Regions from separate parts of the Homo sapiens genome. Here all the other regions are reported to be linked to region 1. Evidence: microRNA targets listed by miRTarBase, many of them from high-throughput screens and not tested one by one. Region 1 holds a microRNA gene; each other region holds the end of a gene's coding sequence.

What was found. The annotated mature microRNA hsa-miR-4795-5p reads AGAAGUGGCUAAUAAUAUUGA and lies in region 1 at 3,573-3,593, opposite strand. An mRNA with a match to its seed (bases 2 to 7 or 8) in the 3' UTR can be bound and repressed. Matches are read on the target gene's strand: a 7mer-m8 pairs with bases 2 to 8, a 7mer-A1 pairs with bases 2 to 7 and ends in A, and an 8mer does both.
Region 2: miRTarBase lists VPS39 as a target of hsa-miR-4795-5p. Seed matches in the 3' UTR shown: 7mer-m8 at 3,541-3,547.
Region 3: miRTarBase lists CDS2 as a target of hsa-miR-4795-5p. The part of its 3' UTR that is shown has no 7-base or 8-base seed match.

Annotation. Positions count from the first base shown.
Region 1 is chr3:87,222,668-87,227,729 of GRCh38, forward strand. It overlaps MIR4795 (microRNA 4795), which reads right to left and starts at 3,610; the gene lies at 3,522-3,610. It overlaps CHMP2B (charged multivesicular body protein 2B), which reads left to right and starts at 4,642. Exons shown (of 6, transcript NM_014043.4): 1 at 4,642-4,889. The coding sequence starts at 4,856. RefSeq lists enhancers at 4,094-4,233, 4,344-4,403, 4,494-4,543, 4,594-4,663, 4,734-4,853.
Region 2 is chr15:42,156,610-42,161,682 of GRCh38, forward strand. VPS39 (VPS39 subunit of HOPS complex) reads right to left here. Exons shown (of 25, transcript NM_015289.5): 24 at 5,073; 25 at 2,092-4,220. The coding sequence ends at 4,145. PLA2G4F (phospholipase A2 group IVF) reads right to left here and starts at 27. Exons shown (of 20, transcript NM_213600.4): 1 at 1-27. RefSeq lists enhancers at 1-467, 2,758-3,257.
Region 3 is chr20:5,189,224-5,194,296 of GRCh38, reverse strand. CDS2 (CDP-diacylglycerol synthase 2) reads right to left here. Exons shown (of 13, transcript NM_003818.4): 12 at 4,459-4,562; 13 at 1-4,195. The coding sequence ends at 4,063. Among named protein-coding and RNA genes, the nearest start is that of CDS2, 65 kb to the right of the region's middle. RefSeq lists enhancers at 1,197-1,246, 2,020-2,109 and a silencer at 3,678-3,747.

The sequences.
Region 1 (5,062 bases):
CTGAATGTTTGTGTCCCCCCAAAATTTAAATGTTGAAACATAATTCATATTGTGCTAGTACTAAGAGGTGGAGCTTTTGGAGGTGTTTAGATAATGAAGGCTCCACTCTTATCAATAGAATTACTGCCCTTACAAAAGAGGTATGAGGAAGCTTATTGATACGGTTTGGCTGTGTCCCCACCCAAATCTTATCTTGAATTATAGTTCCCATAATTCCCACGTTGTGAGAGGGAGCTGGTGGGAGGTAATTGAATAATGGGGGCAGGTCTTTCCCCTGCTGTTCTCATGATAGTGAATAAGTCTCACAAGATCTGATGGTTTTATAAAGGGAATTTCCCCTGCACACGTGCTCTTGCATGCCACCATGTAAGATGTGACTTTGCTCCTCCTTGCTTTTGGTCATGATCGTGAGGCCTCCCCAGCCATGTGGAACTGTGAGTTCTCTCTTCTTTATAAATTACCCAGTCTCAGTTATGTCTTTATTCGCAGCATGAAAATGAACTAATACACTTATTCATTCCTCTAGCCATGTGAGGACACACAGAAGGTGATATCTATGAAAAACAGTCCCTCACCAGATGTGGGACCAGCTAGAACCTTTATTTTGGACTTCCCAACCTCCAGAACTGTGAACAATAAATCTGTTTATAAATTACCCACTCTAAGGTATTTTGCTATAACAGCCTGAATAGATGAAGTCACTTATAAGAAATGAGATATTTTAGACTTGAAAAATGATGATTCTCTCTGTGCTAAGCTTCTACATATCTCTAAAAAATTTTTCAATGTTATATAGGTTAATGTTTTATTCTTAATTTTGTTTATGATAATCATGTAGCATCATGATAGTCACTGTAGCATTATTAAATATAAAGCAGAATACAGTGTAGTTAGTGAAATAGCAAAACAGCTTAAAGTATGCTCAAATTTGAATCCATGTGAAACATGAAACAAATGAGTTGATGTTTTCGCTAAATCCTTACATACATACAGAATTATTTATTGACTTTTAGGTTCTCTAGATCTCTACTGTTGTTCATGGAGATAGATAATGTTAGCTGCTTTTCATATATAAAGAGACTTGAAGTTAAATGTGTCAAATCAACAAAAATGTACCAAATGTATATATATATACTTGTCATTTGGCGTTAAAACATTGAAACATGGATAATATGAAAATACGATTGCATATTAAGTTTCTATTAAATATATTTACATTCTAGTAGGAAAATTATTGAAGGGCCTGACAAGAGATTCTCTCTGAACCCAAGGAGTTTAAAATTGAAGCTGAGGAGAAAAGACAAACAGAAACAAATCTGCACCGAATCCTTCCAGTACCAATGTTAGATACATATTTCTATAACAAGTCAATTCCTACACAAATAACAGATTTAAGAACAAGAAAACCATTATCTTATTATTTATTTGTTTATTTTACTTTAAGTTCTGGGATACATGTACAGAACGTGCACGTTGGTTACATAGGTCTTCATGTGCCATGGTGGTTTGCTGCACCCATCAACCCATCATCTAGGTTTTAAGCCCCACATGCATTAGGTATTTGTCCTAATGCTCTCCCTCCCCTTTCCCCCCACCCCCTGACAGGCCCTGGCATGTGATGTTCCCCTCCCTGTGTCCATGTGTTCTCACTGCTCAACCCCCACTTATGAGTGAGAATATGCAGTGTTTGGTTTTCTGTTCCTGTGTTAGTTTGCTGAGAATAAAACCATTTTTTTATTAAGGAGAAAGAAATGGGCTAATTTGGGGAGGTGGTGGCTGTTAAGGTGAAGGTAACCAAGATCAGCATCAGAAAGCCTAAATCTTCAATTTGTGTTTTCTGTACTACAGAGAAGAGAATTTCAGCATGAAGATTACTTGAGAAAGCATAAAAAGGTAAAACAGCTGGAAACAACAATACAGATAATACAAAAATGATTATTATGTGATATGGTGTGAATGTACCCCCCAAAAATTCATATGTTGAAACTTAATCACTAATGTGATAGTTTTTAGAGGTGGGAACTTTAGGATGTGATTAAGTCATGAGGGTGGAGCCCTCATGAATGAGATTAGTTCCTTTATAAAACAGGTGTGAGGGAGCTGCCTACCGCCCTTTTACCCTTCTGTCCTTCTTGCCATGTGAGGATACAGCATCTCTTTCTTCTTGAGGATGCAACAGCAAGGTACCATCATGGAAGCAGAAAGCAGCTCTCACCAGAAACAAAACCTCTGGGTTCCTTGATCTTGGACTCCCCAGCCTCCACAAATGTGAGAAATAAATTTCTACTGTTTATAAATTACCCAGTCTGTGGTATTTTGTTGTAGCTGCACAGAGGGGCTAAGACATTACGTGCCAAGCACTACTTTGAATGTTTAACATATTAACTCATTTAATCCTTGCAACAGCTATTAGGTTGGTGCAAAAGTAACTGTGGTTTTCGCCAATTACTTTTGTACCAACCTAATATATGAAAGGTGGGCTAATGTTATCTCTATCACATATGTGATGAAAGAAACACGGAGAGCTTCAGTGAACTGGCCTAGGTCTTAAAACTTAAAAGTCACAGAATTGGTCACAGAACTGGGCAGTCTGTGTCCAGAATCAGCACTCTCCAATGTTATGCTATCTTTCTTCAAAAGCTGAACAAGGAGAAGAATGCACCCATTCAAATTATAACCCGAGGTACCCAAAGATGAAAAAATGGCAAATATTTCAGTTTCAGAGGAGGAAACTATGTTATGAAATACTCCAGAAAACAACATATATTTAAGTGTATCATGCCCTTTAAATAAGGAGCGATATAATAATACAAAATGTGTACAGGAGAAATGTGGCCACCAACTAATCAGAATGGACTCTAGCTAGACTGGTGCAATCAGCTGAATATCAGCCTTCTTCAAACTATGGGAGAACAAGCTATTAGAGTACTGAGTTTAAATAGTAAATATTTCTATTTTGTCTTTATTGTAATGAACAAGCCCTGTCTTTAGCTCCTGCTGTGCACTTTTGGAGGGTCTTCCATATGGTTGCTCCTAAGTATTTTGGCATTTTCCCAACTGTTACAATTGGGTCAGTGGGGGGGATTGTATAGGAGTAATAAAACAAGGGTGACTGCAGCAGGGAGGAGTACGATTACTACACACATAACAGCTTATTGCCTCTCATGCGTTCAAGCACAGCTCTATGCCATTCATTACAACAGACAGCCAGGGCAAACTGCCATAGAGCTCACTCCAGAAAAGGCCCGGTCTTGAGTGCAGAGACTAAATCTTCTCACTTACATGTCTTCCTAATGTTTCCTTACTTCATCTTCCCATATCGAGAATAACTTGAGGAGAAGCAAAACAATTATATCTTGCATATTACTACGTCATTCTTAAGAAAGTTTTCTTGAACAGACTCTCAGCTAACTTTTAGCAGCAGCAGCAGCATTATCAGTGGCTATGAGGGCTTGGATATCTCAGGAGGGGAAAAATGGGAAAGGCTGGCCTGATTATCATAAATAATAATCCTTGAGACATGATTCATAAATCCAGAAGTGGCTAATAATATTGACATTATTGTTATAGTGTCAATATTATTAGCCACTTCTGGATTTCTTCCATATCAGAGATAATATTTATGAAAAAAAAAATGCTACCATTATTTTTATCCTGTGGAAGGCAGTGTTGCTTTAAACAGTAGAGACTATATACAGGTACGCACGCATAGGTTGTATTTTCCATTTTATACATGCAAGGATTCTTTAAATAATTCATTACATTTTTTCTTTAACATGATATGCAGTTTTTCACAAAAAGCCCAAATAAACGGCTGTGAGGAATTCTAATAGGATCACCGTATAGCCATGACACTTTATGATTCATGATTTACAAGAAATTAAGAAATAGAGCTGGAGACATTTAGACCAGCCTACAAATTTGTGTGTGTGTGTGTGTGTGTGTGTGTGTGTGTGTGTTTTAATGTTTCCAGGCAAGAACCTTAAACAAAAAGTGTAGCATTAAAAAACTTCCCTTCGTCCTCGAGACCCCCCCAACTCTAGACACTGGATCCCCGGAGACCCACGCTGGGTCGTCGGAGTCTGGAGCCGGGGGCGGCAGGTGAGCGGCTAGGGTCCTGCAGGGGTCTGCGCGGTGCGGGGGAGGTCGCCGAGTCAGTCAGTGCCGAAAGGACCGCGAACTCCAGGGGCCAACAATCACCGGGTACGGAACTCAACGTTTCCGCCAGTTCCTGGATTACTCGAGTAAAAACAAACAAACAACAACAACAACAACAACAAAAATACTAACAGCAATGGGACCGTAATAAATCAACTCGGAGTGGGTACAGGCGGTTCCGGGACAACCCACACTTAGTCTAGGAGCCCGGAGATCCCTCATCCAGCTTTCCCCGGGGCAAGGGGTGAAGCGCTAAGCAAGGCTGATCACTGTCCTCAATCATCACCCAACCCGCGCACAGAAGCCGTGGCCCCACGCTCTCCTATCCCCGCCAGCTCCAGACTCGCCCCGCTGCCAACTCCCGGTGCAGGAGGAACTGGCAGCCGCAGACGTGAGGAAAGCGGCCGCGGCTTCAAACTCCGTAGTGCGCAGGCGCCACACAACGCGCAGGCGCCGCCTAGAAGTGACTTCTCCAAAAAGTGTGTTAGTTCCCGGTCACCTGAGCTCCGGGTGACGCGGCTGCGGTAGCTGCGGATACAAGCCTTCCGCGGGTCCTGCCTGGCGACCCCGACCTCCTCCTGCTGTCTCTCCGCTCCGCCACCCCGAACCCGCCAAGGTCCTGTCCTTTTCCTCCTGTCCTTTGCCAGCGTTGGGCCGGACCGGGCCGAGCCGGGCCGCCCGGGCGCAGTCTTTAACCATGGCGTCCCTCTTCAAGAAGAAAACCGTGGATGGTGAGTTCCAGGCCGGGCTGAAGGGGCCCAGCTCTGCGTTTTCTCGGCGTCTTTCGAGGCCTGCTGGCCGCGATTCTGCCTACTGTCCCTGGAGGCGGGGCTGGATCAAGTGGTCCCACAGGTGACCGCCCTCGCGGCACCACTTCTCTGCCTCCCTCTTGCTTCTGACTCAC
Region 2 (5,073 bases), not on the chromosome of region 1:
GCTGGCTCAGGTGTGACAGGCAGCACTGAGTTGGGAGGGTGGAGCTGCCTGCTCTGCAGAGAACTCAGGCTGGATGGCCTGCTGGAGGTGGAGTTTGACATGCTCCAGGAAGTGACTGGAGCTTAATTTCCCCAGGCAGGAGGCAGCTCAGTCCCTCTCCAAGAGACTCTTGGGGTCTCTGGTTAGCACTCTTGTTCCCAAACCCAGCGCCCTGGTTATCACTGGGCTGTTTGTGAAAAATAGACACCGGAGCTATTTCCAACAAGACCTCTAGGTGAAGCTGGCACAGCTGGCCCAGAGACCAGCTGGCAAGTGCAAATCAGGGAAGAGTCTCCTCCAGCTGTGGAAAAGGCCTGAAACTAGCCACCCTTCAAGTCCCACCTTCCCTGCGGCTCTTAAGCTGAAGCCTAGAAATCTCTGCTTCAGTGTTTCATCTGGGATCAAAGATGTTTCTCTCTTTATATATATTTTCTAATTATACTTTAAGTTCTACGGTACATGTGCACAACGTGCAGGTTTGTTACATGTGTATACATGTGCCATATTGGTGTGCTGCACCCATTAACTCGTCATTTACATTAGGTATTTCTCCTAATGCTATCCCTCCCCCATGCCCCCTGCCCCCCGACATGCCCCGGTGTGTGATGTTCCCCGCCCTGTGTCTAAGTGTTCTCATTGTTCAATTCCCACCTATGAGTGAGAACATGTGGTGTTTGGTTTTCTGTCCTTGCGATAGTTTGCTCAGAATGATGGTTTCCAGCTTCATCCATGTCCCTACAAAGGACATGAACTCATCAAAGATGTTTTTAATCTCTCCTGACCACCCTCATTAATTCGCCAAACACCAAGAGCCTGGTGGGTGCCAGACCTGTGCTAGGCCCAGAAACGCAAAGGTGACAGAGGTGAGGCGGGCCCATCCACATCCTGGAGAAATTCAGTCTCATGACTCCCTGTGGCTTTGGCCCAGGCTCGCTTCCTGGGTCAGTGTACAGTGTCCAGGTACAGACAGGCATATGGGCAGGGGGTTATAAATAAGGACAGGCCAAACAACAAGTCTACGTATCCTTCAGCGACCAGATATACAGGCTTTAGCATTCTCTTTGGCCATCGTAGGCCTTAGGCTGCAGATGGATGTGATGTTCGCTCTTCTGTGGACCACAACCATCAAGGTGGCTGAGACAGGCACAGTCTCCAGGAAGAGTGAGGATCTCGGGGGCCGTGAACTGTGGGAGGGAGAGAATTTCTGTCCCTCAACTAAGATTCAGTCATCTCCACTCTTCCCAAGGCCTAGAGTCACAGGCTGAAAAATACAACATCCAAAAAAGATGTGATTCAACTCCAAAATGAACCGAATGGGCAAGTTCAGACCAGAAACTCCCCCCAAAAAAGGAATGTGTGACTGCCAGTGACCAGGCCCCAAAGAAGGGCCTGTTTCTGCTTTATTTGGATTGTGAAGCCAAGACTTGGCCTGGGCTCTAAGAAATGAGAGTCTGGCAGTTGGTGATAGCTGTGAATGTATGCAGGGGACCTGCGGATCCATACAAGAGGAGAGGGCACAGAGCTAGCTGGGGGCAGAACCAGGCTGGGGCTCTAGCTCCTGACTGATGTGTCTTTCTGGCTGTACCATCCTCTTCTGGAAGTCATCGGCCCCACTGCACAATAAAGTCATTGCCCCTAGTGCCAGATGGGACAGAGACAACAAGGACTACATTTTCTCTTTGGAGTTGGCCAAAGTGAACCAACACTTCTCCACTTCCCAAACACCTCTGCGTCCCTCCATCCCAATTCCTTCATCATGGGCTGCAGGAAGAGGCACCAGGTGCTACTACATGATGGGGGAAAACACTTGGATCTCCCAGACGCCAGTGTGTCCCGCAGAATTCTGTAATGATGGATGTGTTCCGTATCTGTGCTGCTGACTCATCAGCCATGACCACACTGGCTGTACCACGTGGCATTTGTAATGCAAGTATTATATTCATTTTTTCTTGGTCACTAATTGGCTTATTCTTCTAAGTTCTTTGCTAAACTACTATCTTTTCATTGTTATTTTCATCAAACTCCACGGGAGGGAGAAATAAGAGACCCAGATAGGCTTGGTTTCTTGCTTTATTAGGTTTATTATAAGGAGCAGTGATGAGATCTTTATCAGTCCTCACTACAAAGCTTTCATCTCCAGCCTTCTCCATAGCTCTGTGGAGGGCAGAGAGTTGAGGGAAGGAAGAATGGAGCTTGGGAGCATGGGATCATGTATGTATACCAGGAAAGAAAACACACATTCTTTATTCTATTGCTTCAAAGACAGTTTGTGAGAATGGAAGATAACAAGCACAGCTGGCCAGGAAGGCAGGGCACACATGGCAGGTCAAGTTCCTGCTATCCAGGGAGGTGGCCCAGAGCTTCCCTGCTGCTCCTGGAGGAAGCAGAGTCCAAGCTGGCCCAGATGAGGCCCCGGGCAGCACTGCTTCTGTGTGGGTATGGCCAGTCGGGACGTGGCGCCACACACTGCTCCTCCGAACTCTGGTGAAGGGCTGCCCAGCCTCACAGGCCTGAGCAGAGTCTCCCACATCTGCGAATGGGGCCAATGGCACTCACTGTCTCTTCAGGCCCCCACGGACGGCATGCCTGGGGAAGCCTAGTCTACTTACCATCAGCACGTTGATCTGTCACACAGCATGGAGCCATAGTTTACAAAGGACCACGGCAGGTCAAGGACAGGCCACTAAAACTGTTGGTGCTGGGCACCATCACCCACCCTCACCACCATCAAAGACACTGGTGCAGTGAGACTTCGAGTCTGCAAAAACCCCGGGGAGGACAGGAGGCAGGGCCACTCTCCCTGTGTGTCATCAGCCTGCAGTGCCTGAAACTCCAGCCTGTGCACCTCTGGCAGGATGCCCCACACTGCTCCACAGGTTTGGCGGTGAGTTATTTTTAAACCAGCGTCCTGCTGTTCTTGCCCCCCGCGTCCCCTCTGCTGTGCCTAAACACCTCTCAGGAACACTTGGCAGCACGCCATTGTCAGTTCCAGGTCCACTCATCCCCTGCGTGTTGCCGGGACCCACCTTCCTGCGCTATCCCAGCACAACTCTCCAACCACACCATTGCTGAACAAAGCTGGGGAGTGACGGCCAGGGCAGGCTGTAAGGCAAGTGAATGGAAACTGGCTGGAAAAAGAGAAAGGGCCCAGAGCACAAAATCGCCACGCACAAAGACTAAGCCAGCCTGCCTGAGTGTCTGGTGAGCGAAGACGGAGCAGGCACCTCTGTGGGAACATGTATCTAGGGATCACGCATACCCCAGACAGGGCAGGCCCATCCTCAGGAGCTGCAGTCACACTCAGCCCGGCCTGAGGCAAGGGATGCAGGGCCTTGCCTAGGCAGAGAATGATGCTCTCCGAGGCATCTAGGCATGGAGTGTATGGCCAAAGAGGGTCTATTTACAACATACCTGACAATCAACTAGCACTGTATTCCTAGAACTGAGACCCCTTGCTTCTCATCTTACCTTGCTTAAATATTAGTTATTCCCAGAGTCAGGGAAGTGGGAGAGAAAGCCTGGGTAGGGCAGTGAGGGAAGTGATAAATGGTGAGAAAGAAAAGGAGACTGAAAACTAACAGGGCGGCTACCGAGGGGTGCAGGGCACAGTTACCATGGAGACGTAAAACACTACACAGAATGCGAGCCATCGGGTCCATGCGGCCAGAAGCTTGAGTGCTGTTCTCTCATGGAACTCTCCAGTGAGCCATGCTGAGCGGTCCTTGTGAAGTCATGTACTTAATAGAAAAGCCCTTGATGAACAACCCCATGGTTACAAACACTTGTGACAAGTTTCCTTGTTCAGGTGACTGGTGTGCAAAGGCAAGATGGTGCACATCCTCCTGACCAAGCAGGTACTGAATTCTCTGGAATTGCCCACAACATAATGGTATAAGGTATAACTAATCTCTTTTCCCATTAAAAAGCTGGCAATGCCAGACCATGAGTCTAATTAATTCAGAGTTGTTCCAGGGCACAAGATAGCCAGTAATGTCCAAATGGGGAGCCTTGTGGTGGTGGCAGCCAGGATTCCTAAGGCCAGGTGCTCCTTCACCTCTCTGGGAGAGCCAAGCTGTCCATCCGCTGGATCCCCAGGATGCTGGGCTCAAGTGTCAGCTGGGTTTACCTCTTTGGAACAGAAGTAATGGACGACCACTCCATTGGGGTATCTTGCAAATGCACTGCAGGGAAGAAAATGGCTTGGGAGTGAGGACTGCTTCTAAGTGACCACTTCTCTGGCAGCGGCACCTCCTACAGAAGAGGCACATTGCTGGGGGGCCATTCCAAAAGCAGCCCACCCAAACCTCAAAGAACAGCCTGCCTGAGGGGCTCTGGATTTCTGTAGCCATCATCTCTGTCAAATAACCAAACAGAGGATGAGGTGCACACAGTTAAGAGTGCATGGGGTATTTTTTTATTATGCAAAACACAAGGCATATTAAAGATGGGCAGTGCACCAGCCCAAAGCTCAGCCCTGGCTTCCTGAGAGCCAACAATGTTCATCAGAACAGGTTTCAGGCTAATTCTGAAAAGGACGGCGAGTTTGTCTTTCTAAAGAAAAATATTTTTCCAGCTACATAAGAGACAAATCACTCTCCTTTGAAGAAAAGGGGACTAACTAGAGTATATGTCTTAACACAGTATGAGTCTGGCTCAGGATCCTACTTGAGTCACAATGCAGTAGCTTGAAAGATCTTTTTCTTCCTTCACTGGATCTTCCTTATAAGAACTTTCTGCAGACCTACATCTCTTGGGCACCCACTATATCAGGTTCTAGCTTCAAGAGGGGAAGAGTTTTATGGACAAGAATCCAACAGCTCCATACCATACATTGCAGGTCTTTAAATTCTCGAAGCCCACTCCCAACAGATAGAACAGGCTGCTCTCTGAAGGCTCAAGAACTAAAAGTTGTCAGGACAGCCAGCAGCCATGTTCTCCTTCTCTGTTAAAGGGCAGAAATCCATCCTGAGCGTTCTCCACCCCTGGGAACCTCCACAAAGCCCAGATGCCACACAGGTGTGAAGGAGGCTCACC
Region 3 (5,073 bases), not on the chromosome of region 1:
GTGGCACAAGGCCCCCACCCAACAAGAGAAACTGAGTCAGGAAGTGAGAGCTGTTCATCTCTTTAAAAACTGGAAGCTGGGCAGCTGCGTGCAGGGTGATCAAGGGAAAAGGAAGTTTGTTTTGACCAAGTCAGGGAAGAATACGGGGCTCTGCCTGAGTATTAGCCATCATCTTCAGGCCAGAGTTTGTTCCACCTGCTCTTTGGAGTCCAGTGTTCCAAAGCACAAGTGAGAGTCCATCCGCGGCTTACTGTCTTGCAATGTGTCCATAAAAGTCACCTGGACATCCTCCCCACCCTGACCTCAGAAGAACAGAAACCTGTTCAAGTGAAATTGTCCTCCCAACTCCACCCTTTTCTTAGCACATAATCACAGTGTGCAAGAAAGGTGGGCCCAGATATGTTACTCTGGAAGACAAAAGACAATAGTGCCTAAGATATTACTAAAACAGGAAAAGGCTTCAGCAGTGACATACCACATTTAGTAGGGTGATGAAAATCTACCCCCTTGGACATGCAACTAGGACTGGCTTTGTAACTAACAAGACCCCTGCTTCACAGTTTTCTGAGCAAGGACACTCTGTCTCAAGTCACTTATACTCTCCCACTACCCGACTCTGTCAATAGTGGAGATGAACCTGAGCTTTGGGAAACATGGTCCCCATACAAACAGGTGACAAGGGCTGAGCCAAGGGCTCACTGACAGTGTGAAGATCTCAACTCAAAGATCCATTCAAATAAGGCTCCAGTCAACTCAGCAACTAGCTCAGACCAAATCACAAGGTCTGTGTAGTCTCCCTTAAAACATATTTTTGGGATTTTCTTGCATAATATAGGTCAAGTTACAGTGGAAAAAAATTCTATAAAAATGGATTCAAAGTCCACCTGTGTAAAGTCAAAAGTTGTATCCTCCCCAATGAAAGAGATTAGTTTCAAAGGATGTGAAACTAGTTCTCATACATTATAGGGCTGTACAATACTAAGAGTAATTACATTTTAAATGCAAAATACTGTAGCTACTAAAATGCCCAGAATATGAAACAAGTTGCCTAAGAGGGTTTCACTTTCAGGAGTAAAACATAAATGGAACCTTTCTGAATACTAAAAGCAGTTAAGAGGGCAGCATGCGCACACACAAAAGGCAAAGACTCGGTACCCTGTGAGCGGTCATGAGCAGAGCTCCCAGGGGCTGGGGGGTGCCCATCAGCCCTGGTTTCTATGACCCCCTTGTTCCACCAGGCAGGAGCCAACAGCAATTTAAGCTCCAACCTGGCTCAGGCCAGGCCTCCTGAGCTAGAGGGAAGGAAAGCTGCAACACCTCGGTGTACTCACACGACGTTCACAAAAGCAAGCAGGGCTGGGGGACCCTCCAGGTGTCCTGTGGGTAAAGTGCAGGATGGAGTGAGTCCTGACTCCACCACACTATCCTGGGGAAGCTCCCTGCCTGGTAAGGTGCTCATGACTCTCACCCGAGGTAAGAAGGCTGTTGTGAGAATGTAGGGATACAAGTTGGAAAGCAAAGCAAAAGTCTCTGAATCAGGACTATGCAGTATTCATGAATACATAAACAAATGAGAAGCATAAAACCATGCATGGAAGTGATAAACAGGGAATTCACGACAAGGGAGGGCACACAGTTGCAGTCACATTTTATTTCTGACCAATAAAAAAAAAATGGGTCTAAAGCAAGTGATGCCATTCATGAAGATTTGAATGTACACACGTAAAAATGGTTTCTTGAATCTTGTCTGTGAATAGGAAAGAGAAACATTGTGCTATATGGACACAAGGTGGCAGTGCTCTCCTAGCTACCTGACAAAAAATCCTCATCTCCAGAAAGCATGCAGGAGAAATCAGAAAATAAAACACAAGCTGACCCTCTGGCCTGCCTGCTAGCAGCTCTAGTGCGCACTCAGCTTCGGCTTCCTAGACCCCCCTTCCCCACCCCACCCCCACCAAGTAACCACTTCCACAAAGGAACATGATGAGCCTTGCCCAGTATGCTCGGCTCCCTGATCCCAAAGGCAGCCCTATTCAAGAGCAGGTCTCTGCAGCCAGGCCCCAGCTGAGACTCCCTCCTCTCAAGGAGCCCACCATATGCCCACAATGGGACAAAAGAGACAAATGAGGAGCCCTTTCGGTATCTAGTTTGGTGATCCAGGTTCATTCTTCAATCTGAAAACTACAGTTTCGTTATTGATCACCTTTACTGTTCGGGTGTGCTGCTGAGATACCTACTCACCTTAAGGATAAGCATGTAAGGGCCTGAAAACACTTCCTGTTTGGGGGGTGCCCAGGACCTCACTTAATGAGCCTCTACCGGCATGAACTTGCTCAGCCAGAATCACAGAAGAGTGGAATTGGGAGTAGCTCCGAAAAAGAGGCCCTGGAGAGTGATGCATCCTGCCAGTGACACAGCCAATACTGAAATGAAAGCCCTTGCGATAATATGTTTTGTTTTTAAGGGGCCTTGGACCTGAATAAGAGAAGCCACGAGGCTGAAATGGAAATAAAAGTTCAGCGGAAAGAAGCCGCTTCAGCCCCACACACATATGGGAAGTCACTCAAGGATGTGTGAGCTGAAACATCCCGAGGGCTCCATCCTCTGCTGGACACTCTAGAGACCTGGGCTGACTGTGCACTTTCAGGGAGGCAGTGAGGCTAATTTACAAACAAAAACACCACAAACCAGCACTAGACCAAGGTGCAGAAGCAAATCATTACACCCTCGTTGGCAATGAAAACATCCACGGCACGGAATAGTTTGATATATTTGGGTGCCAAGTTCTCTCTCCCGCACTCCATCACTTGTTGGCCTGACAAAGAACTAATCTGTCTTCCCAAAGTCAATCTCACCCCTGAAATTAGGGAGGGGAAAAAAAATCACAGTTTAAGCAAACAACAACAACGAAAGGTCCCCCAGTACAATACAAACTACATTTAAACTGGTCACATTATATAAAAAGTGTGCATTTAATCTTCAAAATAGTCAAGGCTCTAATCAGGTTAGGTTTTCCATAGTTTTAAGCAGGACTTTGTGGTTTTAGTGAAGAAGTCATGGTGCAATTGAAATCACTGTAAGAAATAAGTGACTTTTAAAACAAACACAGACACACACACTCCTCTTAAGAGTAATATATACACAACACAGCAGCTACATGGGTGTTCAGGCAAAGGGTGCATGAACGAGAAGCCCTCTGCTCCCTGCCCGATGAGAAAGTCCCCAGAAAGGATTCAGCAGCAGCAAGTCTACAGCACAAACATGGATGGCATTGTCCCTGAAAACACACAGTTAGGTGGACCTACAGGAGACATTGGAGCCTAGACATGTGGGAAAGGGCTCAGTTACAGTACATTCTACTGCATACACTTGAAATATTACAGTGTGTTTTTTCTCCAGACTATTATAAATAATTTTTCGTGCTTTCTGAAAAAAATAAAAACTGAAACTTTCAGTCTGCGATGAAGGTGAACCCATCTTATAAAGCAGAGCTTACTTACATTCTGCAGGATTTTGGTGTGGATGCATAGAAGGCTTACCTGGTTAGTAAGCCTCCATTCCTCCGACCTACAGAAGGCAACCCTTCTGCAGCTCCAAGCAGGGATTTCTAGAAAAGACCAGGTGTACAAAACATCTAAGCTGTGCCTCCCACCACAGGTGGGGAAGTCCCCTGATTTGGTCAGACACAGATGAATGTCTGTGTCTGACTGAGCCCAGAAACAGTTCAATTGATGGGGGCTGGAACCACCAAGAAAACACTCCTGACCTGGGCAACACTGTCTTCCAGATTATTAATACTTTTGTTTTAAAAAAATCCAAATGGTTTTACAACCCGTGACTTCTTTCCAACTCAAAGCTGTAGTTTACTTACAACACAAATTCTAAACACATAGACTGTATATACAGATTTTTTGAACCCACAAATAAAAAATACCCTCCAAAAAAAAAAAAAAAAGACAGTGAGTTGAAGCCTCGTCATTGTCTAAGTCACACCAGCTGGGCTTGCCTTGGAGACCTGCCCCTGCTCAGTTCTGTTCCTGTTCTCCTGGCCCTGGGTGGCCCCTACTCGTCCTCTGTGGTGGATGTCAGCATCCCTTTGTCGATCAGATGAGACCGCAGCGTGTTGAAGATGTGGAGCTGCTGATCTGGCCGTAAAGTCAGGAACTGCTGAATCAGTTTGCTTGGGTTAGGGCCTCTGGAACAGAATGTGAAGAAACAGCACTGAGCTAGGGCCCGGAAGCTTCCAGGGCCTGATTATCTGAGTGGCTGCTCTGATCTCTGGATCAGAGAGTTATCTATTAACAGATGACAGGAGGCCTCAGAAAATCTGTAAGCAGAAACAACTGAAAACTGCATTATTTGGGATGCTTTTCACTGGAACTTAGATGCCGCTAAAATTCTAGAATTGCACCGTACTTAAAAATCCACCAACTTGGTTCAGATGGAAAGGTACTATACCTGATAAAACTGGCGATGTATACATTGACAAAGGTGGCCATCAGATACTGGCAGTCAAAGCGATCCATGATGCCTCCATGGCCAGGAATGGTATTGGCAAAGTCCTGTTAGAGGCAGGGGAAGGATGGGTGAACTTGGGCTCAGCCACTAACCAATCCCAGCCTAATGGTCCCACCCCAATGTCAGGCTTCTGTGCTGAGTAGCTGAGGGCAATAGAAGGTGAGAAGTATGAAATCTAATGGTGAGGCTATATTAGGACACAATTTTATTGCATTACAAAATGTTCTTATTTCATTTACTTAATAAAGACAGGAGTCTTGCTATGTTGCTCAGGCTACTTTCTAACTCCTAGCCTCAAGTGATCCTCCCGCCTTGGCCTCTTAAAGTGCTGGGGTTACAGACATGAGCCACTGCCTGGCCCAAAATGTTCTTTTGAAGAAAGATATATTAACAAATAAACTGAAAAACAACGATTGCATTTTCCTGAAAATATTGTTATTAATTAACTCACCTAAATTCAGTGCATGGGTCAAGATCACACATTAAATGCCAGGGTGTACAGCCTAGTATTTTGGAGGGGGCAGGGAAGGGGGAGAAAGGCAGAAGATGGGTGAG